2 linked regions of the Homo sapiens genome follow. The protein of the gene in region 2 purifies or fractionates together with the protein of the main gene of each other region. This does not show direct contact. Each region holds a gene or a part of one and is shown on either strand. Other genes may lie near its edges. The genes, in order: SS18L1 and BCL7B.

Evidence for each region.
Region 1: the proteins of BCL7B (region 2) and SS18L1 purify together in Homo sapiens (affinity purification with mass spectrometry, with the first as the bait; one large-scale study listed by BioGRID). This does not show direct contact.

The regions. Positions count from the first base shown.
Region 1 is NC_000020.11:62,164,003-62,167,814, forward strand, and holds part of SS18L1 (calcium-responsive transactivator), read left to right. Parts: intron 1-142; coding exon 143-244; intron 245-1,419; coding exon 1,420-1,512; intron 1,513-3,812. UniProt on the Homo sapiens protein: Transcriptional activator which is required for calcium-dependent dendritic growth and branching in cortical neurons. Recruits CREB-binding protein (CREBBP) to nuclear bodies.
Region 2 is NC_000007.14:73,547,522-73,551,333, forward strand, and holds part of BCL7B (B-cell CLL/lymphoma 7 protein family member B), read right to left. Parts: intron 1-3,812. UniProt on the Homo sapiens protein: Positive regulator of apoptosis. Plays a role in the Wnt signaling pathway, negatively regulating the expression of Wnt signaling components CTNNB1 and HMGA1.

The sequences.
Region 1 (3,812 bases), on a different chromosome or scaffold from region 2:
GTTGGATACGATGACAGCGTGGGGTGTTCTCCTCGGGTGGGTGAGGCCATTCAGCAAGGCCTTGGCTTCCCCAGTGAGCGAGCAGGTCCTCTGAGGGAGGAGGGCGCGGCCCGCACTGGCGCTGAATGTGGTTCCCCCGCAGGCTCTTCCCAGCAGTACCTGGGCCAGGAGGAGTACTATGGCGAGCAGTACAGCCACAGCCAGGGCGCCGCGGAGCCCATGGGCCAGCAGTACTACCCCGACGGTGAGCACTGGCGGCGGCCTGACCCCGCCCAGGAACGCAGAGCAGCTGCAGGGGCAAGGAGGGCAAGGAGGGCAAGGAGGGTGTGGCCACTGCAGTGTGTCCTCAGTCATTCCAGCTCAGGCCTGGGCTACAGGCAGAGTGGCCAGACGCCCTGCAGGAGCAAGGTAGGGGATGGGGTGAGCTGGGCTGGCAGTGGTGCCTGGCCTCTGCAGAGAGAAGCTGTGGCACACACCGCTGCACTGGCCTCCACGCGGCCTTGCCTCTACTTCCTGAAAGGCTGTGGGAGTTGGAGGCGGATAATTGTAGCTCCTAGCTGTAGATAGGTGGAAATGTTCAAGAAGGCGCCTCCCAGCTTCACAGAGAATGCCCTGAAGGTGACGGCTCCACCTGCAGCACCTCTCCTCCTGCACCTTCTCATCTCTGCAGAGTATTTTACCGTCGTCACCTTTCAGTCTTTGCATAGTCCCAGGGCTTGTGGAAGGGATACTGAAAGTGGTCTTGGCTGAAAACAGCGGTTCACACCTGTCATTCCGGCACTTTGGGAGGCTGAGGCAGGAGGATCGCTTCAGCCCAGGAGGTTGAAGCTGCATTGAGCCATGATCGCACCACCACACTCCAGCCTTGGTGACAGAGCAGGATCCTGTCTCTAAATAAAGTAAAAATAACAATAAAATAAAGTGGTCTTAAAGGCTGGATTGATCCCTGGGAGGCATCCAGGCAGGGAGCTGGCCTCAGCCAGCAAGGGGCAGGTGCACAGACAGGTGGGCAGGTGGCAGCAGGGCAAGCCACCCTGGCCACGTGATGGTCACATGCAGCGAAGGCCTCGGTAAGGGTTGGACACCCCTGCCTGCGTCCTCCCAGGAGCTAGCGGTGGCGGGGAGAAGGCAGTCGGGTCACTAGCATGGCTGTGTGGCAGGCACTGAAAGCGCTGATCCTCTGCATAAATCCCCAGGTAGCTTCACAGTCGCCCCGAGAAGGAGGCATTGATGTCTGCATTTCAGTGGGGAGGCCGAGGCTCAGGAGGTTGGGGCATGGTTTTGGGGAACACGGGTCCTGCCGGCTCTTGTTGCCTCCCTGGCCAGACAACATCTCCCCAGCCTGGGTCTCAGTTGCCTCCTCCGGGACCTGTGCAGTGCACAGCCTCCGCTGACTGTCGCCGTCTCCGTTTCGCACAGGCCATGGCGATTACGCCTACCAGCAGTCATCCTACACGGAGCAGAGCTACGACCGGTCCTTCGAGGAGTCCACGCAGCACTACTATGAGGGGGGTAAGGAGCACGGCTGCGTGCTGGGCTCGAGCGTAAGCGCCACACGCAGCAGAGTTAAGACGCTGCACCCTTAGGAGCACGCGGTGCCTGCCTTCAGTGAGTCCCTTAAATCACAGCACAGCGCGTGGGAGGAGAGACAGTGTGTTCTGGAAGCTGGAAATTCAGGCTGTGTCGGGAGCCCCGCTTGCCTTATGGGTGTGTTCGTGAGACAGGAAAGGATTCAGCCGGCCATGCTGGGGTTGGGGGCACAGACTTGGTTATTGGGTCCAGCCAGGGAGCGTGGGGCCTGCGACAGGAAGGATTCAGCCGGCCATGCTGGGGTTGGGGACACAGACTCTGTTATTGGGTCTGGCCAGGGATCGTGGGGCCTGCGAGCCACTCTCAGAGCTTCCTCAGCTGGAGGCCAGCAGTGGCTGCGCTGGGTGTGGCCTCGCGTTTCTTCAGACACCTGCAGGCCAGGAAACGCACATCTGTGGCTGGGGGCTTGCCGCCCTTCATGGCGGTCCTGGGCAGTGCTGCGCTGGGGGCTGCGTGTCGGGTGGACTTGCCCCTTTCTGTGGTGTCTGTGCCCCCACCCTGGCTGCCCTGAAACCCCAACAGAACATCCCAGAATGTGGAGTTGGGAAGAGGTACACACAGCCCGTTCCAGTCCCACCCCGGGATAAAGATGGCCCCCAGAGAAGAGCTGATGATCGCCTGCGGGATTGCGCAACCTCGTCCGGGAGGGAAGGCGGGCCTGCAGTCCCTGGGGAGAGGGGCCTCGTGTCTGCTGACGCTGACCGGCAGGCAGCAGTGGCTGAGGCCTTCCCACTGCAGGGCTGCAATTTATCAAGAGGTAACAGTGTTGGTGAGGCTTCACCAGGTACACAAAGCAGGCAGGCACTAAACGGCTACAGATTTCCTTGTTTGGGTTACTTCTTAAAGAATTGGATGTGTAAAGGTTTTGCTTCTGAGCTTACACATCTCAGCCTGCTGTGAAGAAATAAAGCACGCAAGTGTAGGCACATATAGAAACATCACGGTGTGCGCTACGAATGCCTGCAACGTTGAAATGTCAGTTACACCTTTGTAAACCTGGGGGAAACAAAAAGTACATGAATACATAATGAAAGTTTAAAAGAAGAAAGAGCCTAGGTGTTGTGGCTCACGCCTATAATCCCAGCACTTTAGGAAGCTGAGGTGGGTGGATCACCTGAGGTCAGGAGTTTGAGACCAGCCTGGCCAACACGGTGAAACCCCGTCTCTACTAAAAATACAAAAATTAGTTGGACGTGGTGGCATGTGCCTGTAATCTGAGCTACTCAAGAGGCTGAGGCAGGAGAATTGCTTGAACCCGGGAGGTGTAGGTTGCAGTGAGCTGAGATCATGCCATTGCACTCCAGCCTGGGCAACAAGAGTGAAACTTTGTCTCAAAAAAAATAAAAAGAAATAAAAAAAAGAAATGGCCAGGCATGGTGGCTTACGCCTGTAATCCCAGCACTTTGGGAGGCCAGTGGAGGAGGATTGCTTGAGCTCAGGAGTTTGTTTGTTTTTTTTTTTTTTTTTTTTTGAGACGGAGTCTCACTCTGTCGCCGAGGCTGGAGTGCAGTGGTATGATCTTGGCTCACTGCCACCTCCGCCTCCCAGGTTCAAGCAATTCTCCTGCCTCAGCCTCTTGAGTAGCTCGGATTACAGGCCCCGCCACCACACCCAGCTAATTTTTGTATTTTCAGTAGAGATGGGGTTTCATCATGTTGGTCAGTCTGGTCTCGAACCCCTGACCTCATGATCCACCTGCCTCAGCCTCCCAAAGTGCTGGGATTACAGGCGTGAGCCACCGCGCCCGGCCGAGCTCAGGAGTTTGAGGCCAGCATGGGCAACATGGCAAAACCCTTTCTCTCCCGAAAAAAAAAAAAAAAATGCCGGGCGTGGTGGCGGGTACCTGTAATCCCAGCTACTCAGGAGGCTGAGGTGGGAGAATCGCTTGAACCCAGAGGCAGAGGTTGCAGTGAGTTGAGATTGCACTACAGCACTCCAGCCTGGGTGACCGAGCCAGACCCTGTCTCAAAACAAAAGCCACCCTGTGGCCAGCACCCAGAGGCTATCTTCTGGCATATTGGCTGCAGTGGTGCCTCCGTAAGCCCTGGGAGTCAGCAGGATCTCTGCCATCATGGGCCTGGCCCTGTCCCTTCCAGCTGGAGCACAGGGTTCAGCCTTGTCCATGGCGAGGTGTCCACATGCGTCTGCCCAAGGCTGCCACACTTTGTCCCAAAAACAAACGCAGGATGTGCTGCTCAGCCTTTTAGTGTCTGATGTAGCTA
Region 2 (3,812 bases):
AGAAGAAATGCTAAAGTTTCCAGGAAGCCAAGTAGATCACCTACAAAGACTCAAGCATGGGAATAACATCACATTTCTTAACAGCGACACTGGATGTACAATTCAGTAATAGCTTCAAAGTGCTGAAAGAAAATAATTTTGAACCTAGAATTTCATATACAGGTAAAATCATCAATTTTCAACATGAAAGTGAAACAAAGATATTTTCAGAAAGTTTTCCCCACAGAAGCTCTCTTTGACAAAACTCTTGAAGGATGTATTCTAGCAAAAAGAAAAACAAATGTAGGAGAAAACAGTAAGAAGTCGGTGCATGAGGCTGAGCACAGTGGTTCACACCTGTTACCCCAGCACTTTGGGAGGCCTAGATGGGCAAATCACTTGAGGTCAGGAGTTCAACACCAGCCTGGCCAACATCATGAAACCCCGTCTCTACCAAAAAATACAAAAATTAGGCTGGGTGTGGCAGCATGCACCTGTAGTTTCAGCTACTGGGAGGCTAGGCACCAGAACTGCTTGCACCCAGGAGGCGGAGGCTGCAGTGAGCCAAGATTACGTCACTGCACTCCAGCCTCAGAGTGACACCCTGTCTCAAAAAAAAAAATGTAGGTGCATGAAATTTTAGGCGAGCCTGGGCGCAGTGGCTCACGCCTGTAATCCCAGCACTTCGGAAGGCGGAGGTGGGCAGAACACGAGCTCAGGAGATCAAGACCATCCTGGCCAACATGGTAAAACCCTGTCTCTACTAAAAATACAGAAATTAGCCGGGCCTGGTGGTGTGTGCCTGTAATCCCAACTACTCTGGAGGCTGAGGCAGGAGAATTGCTTGAACCCGGGAGGCAGAGGTTGCAGTGAGCTTAGATCGCACCACTGTACTCCAGACTGAGCAACAGAGTGAGACTCTGTCTCGAAAAAACAAAACAAAATAAGGAAACAACAACAACAAAAATTAGCTGGATGTGGTGGCATGTGACTGTAGTCCCAGCTACTCAGGAGGCTGAGGTGGGAGGATCACTGGAGCCCAGGAGACAAAAGTAGAAGTAAACCGAGATTACATCACTGCATTCCAGCCTGGGCGACAGATTGAAACCGTGTCTTACAAAATAATAATAATAATAAAAAAAGGAGCAGGCCGGGCACAGTGGCTCACGCCTGTAATCCCAACACTTTGGCAAGCCGAGGCGGGCGGATCACCTGAGATCGGGAGTTGAAGACCAGCCTGACCAACATGGAGAACCCTAGTCTCTACTAAAAATACAAAATTAGCCAGATGTGGTGGCGCATGCCTGTAATCCCAGCTACTTGGGAGGCTGAGGCAGGAGAATCGCTTGAAACCAGGAGGCAGAGGCTGCAGTGAGCCGAGATTGCGCCACTGCACTCCAGCCTAGTCAAGAGAAGCGAAATTCCGTCTCAAAAAAACAAACAAACAAACAAAAAAAACTCCAAAAAACAAAACTCCTGTTTCTGGTGGGAATATAAATTGGTACAACTACCATTTCAGCAAATAGTTTAGCATCAGCTAATATAGGTCAAAACATACATACCCTAAGACCCAGCCACTTCCCTTCCAAGAATATATCCTAGGAAAACTCATGTACATGTTGATGTGGATTCTGAACAAGAATGCTCACAGGGGCATTGTTCCTATTGGCCCTAACTGTGGACAACCTCAATATCTACAGGAGAACCAGAAAAATAAACTACACTTAGCCATGTGATGAATATGCAGCAAAATACAGCAGAGAGAGCAATGGAAAGGAATGGGTAACTCCAAGGACAACATGGATGCATTTTACAAACATAATGCTGAGCAAAAGAAACAAGACACACGAAAATAGATACTTTATCATGCTGTTTCCATAACACTCAAAATGTTAGAGGCTGGTGCAGTGGCACATGCCTGTAATCCCAGCTATTTGGGAGGCTGAGATAAGATCCCTTGAGCCCAAAAGTTCAAATCCAGCCTGGGCAACAATGAGACCCCCCACCATCTCTAAAAAAGGAAAAAGCGTGGGTACGATGGCTCATGCCTAAAATCCCACCACTTTGGGAGGCCGAGGTGGGAAGATCATTTGATCCCAGGAATTTGAGACCTATCAGCCTAGGTTGACATAGCAAACTCCCATCTCTCCAAAACAAACAAAAAAAAGAAAGAAAAAAAATTAGCTGGGCATGATGGCATATGCCTGTGGTCCCAGCTTCTCAGGAGGCTGAGGTGGGAGGATTGCTTGAGCCTGGGAGGTCAAGGCTCCAGTGAGCTGAGATCATGACACTGCACTCCAGCTTCGGTGACATAGTGAGATTTTGTCTCTGGAAAAAAAATCTCAAAAATAATAATAAAGGAAAAACTGTTTATGAATGACTAGACAAGTGGTAAGAAAAGCAAAAGTAGGAGAGTCATTACCTTTAGAGGGACAGGAGGAAGAGGATGGGAAGAGCTGCAGAGAGGTCTGCTGGGGTCTTGGCAAAGCTGTGTTTTGCAGAGTGGTTCTCACAAGAGTGTTAGCTTTATATTTATTCATACACTGTACATTTATGTTTTATATACTTCTCTGTATGTGTTTTATATTTGAAAATTTAAAAAACAATTAGAAAAAATAAAGTTGGAAACAATCTGGGTATTTATCACCCAGAAAATATGTAGATAAAGGTACTCACTGCAAATAAGAAAATGCAATGCATGAGTCAAAGGTAATAATTCTATTTATATTTACAGATACATGGAGGGTTCTCAAAACAAGGTTGGGCCAGGCACGGTGGTTCATGCCTGTCATCCCAGCACTTTGGGAGGCCAAGGCAGGCGGATTACTTGAGGTCAGGAGTTTGGGACCAACCTGGCCAACATGGTGAAACCCGTCTCTACTTAAAATAGAAAAATTAGCCAGGCGTGGTGGCAGGCGCCTGTAATCCCAGCTGCTCAGGAGGCTGAGGCAGGAGAATTGCTTGAACCTGGGAGGCAGAGGTTGTAGTGAGCTGAAATTGCACCATTGCACTCCAGCCTGGCGACAGAGCGAGAGTCCGTCTCAAAAAAACAAAAAAGCAAAAAACCCCAAATTAAAAAACCAAAGTTGAACCACAGAGAATACAAAGAGGTTCTGGCAAAATACTGTACATATTTTTTTTTTGTTTTTTTTTTGTTTGTTTGTTTGGTTTTTTTGAGATGGAGTCTCACTCTGTCGCCCAGGCTGGAGTGCAGTGGTGCGATCTCGGCTCACTGCAAGCTCCGCCTCCTGGGTTCACACCATTCTCCTGCCTCAGCCTCCCGAGTAGCTGGGACTACAGGCGCCCACCACCATGCCCGGCTAATTTTTTGTACTTTTAGTAGAGACGGGGTTTCACCATGTTAGCCAGGATGGTCTCGATCTCCTGACCTCGTGATCCGCCCGTCTCGGCCTCCCAAAGTGCTGGGATTACAGGCGTGAGCCACCACGCCCGGCCCACATATTTAAGTTTTGTTTAAACACAAAAATACACATATGAAACAATGCTATGTATTTTTAAAGAATATACAGGTATCCAAATACATCCAACAAAGATGAAGCACAAAGGTCTACACCAGAATTAGAAAGATGTATATACATATGATACACACAATACAGTGGGGGACTAATCGCATAAGAGCAAGTATCAGCAAACTTTTTCTTAAAGGGTCAGATGATAAATATTTTAGGTTTTACGGGCCATTTGGCCTTATGGCAACCACTCAATCTGCCACTGTAATTCAAAAGCACCACAGACAATAAGGAAATCAGTGGGCATACTTATGTGTTTGGTTTTTTTTGTTTGTTTGCTTATTTTCGAGATGGTGTGTCACA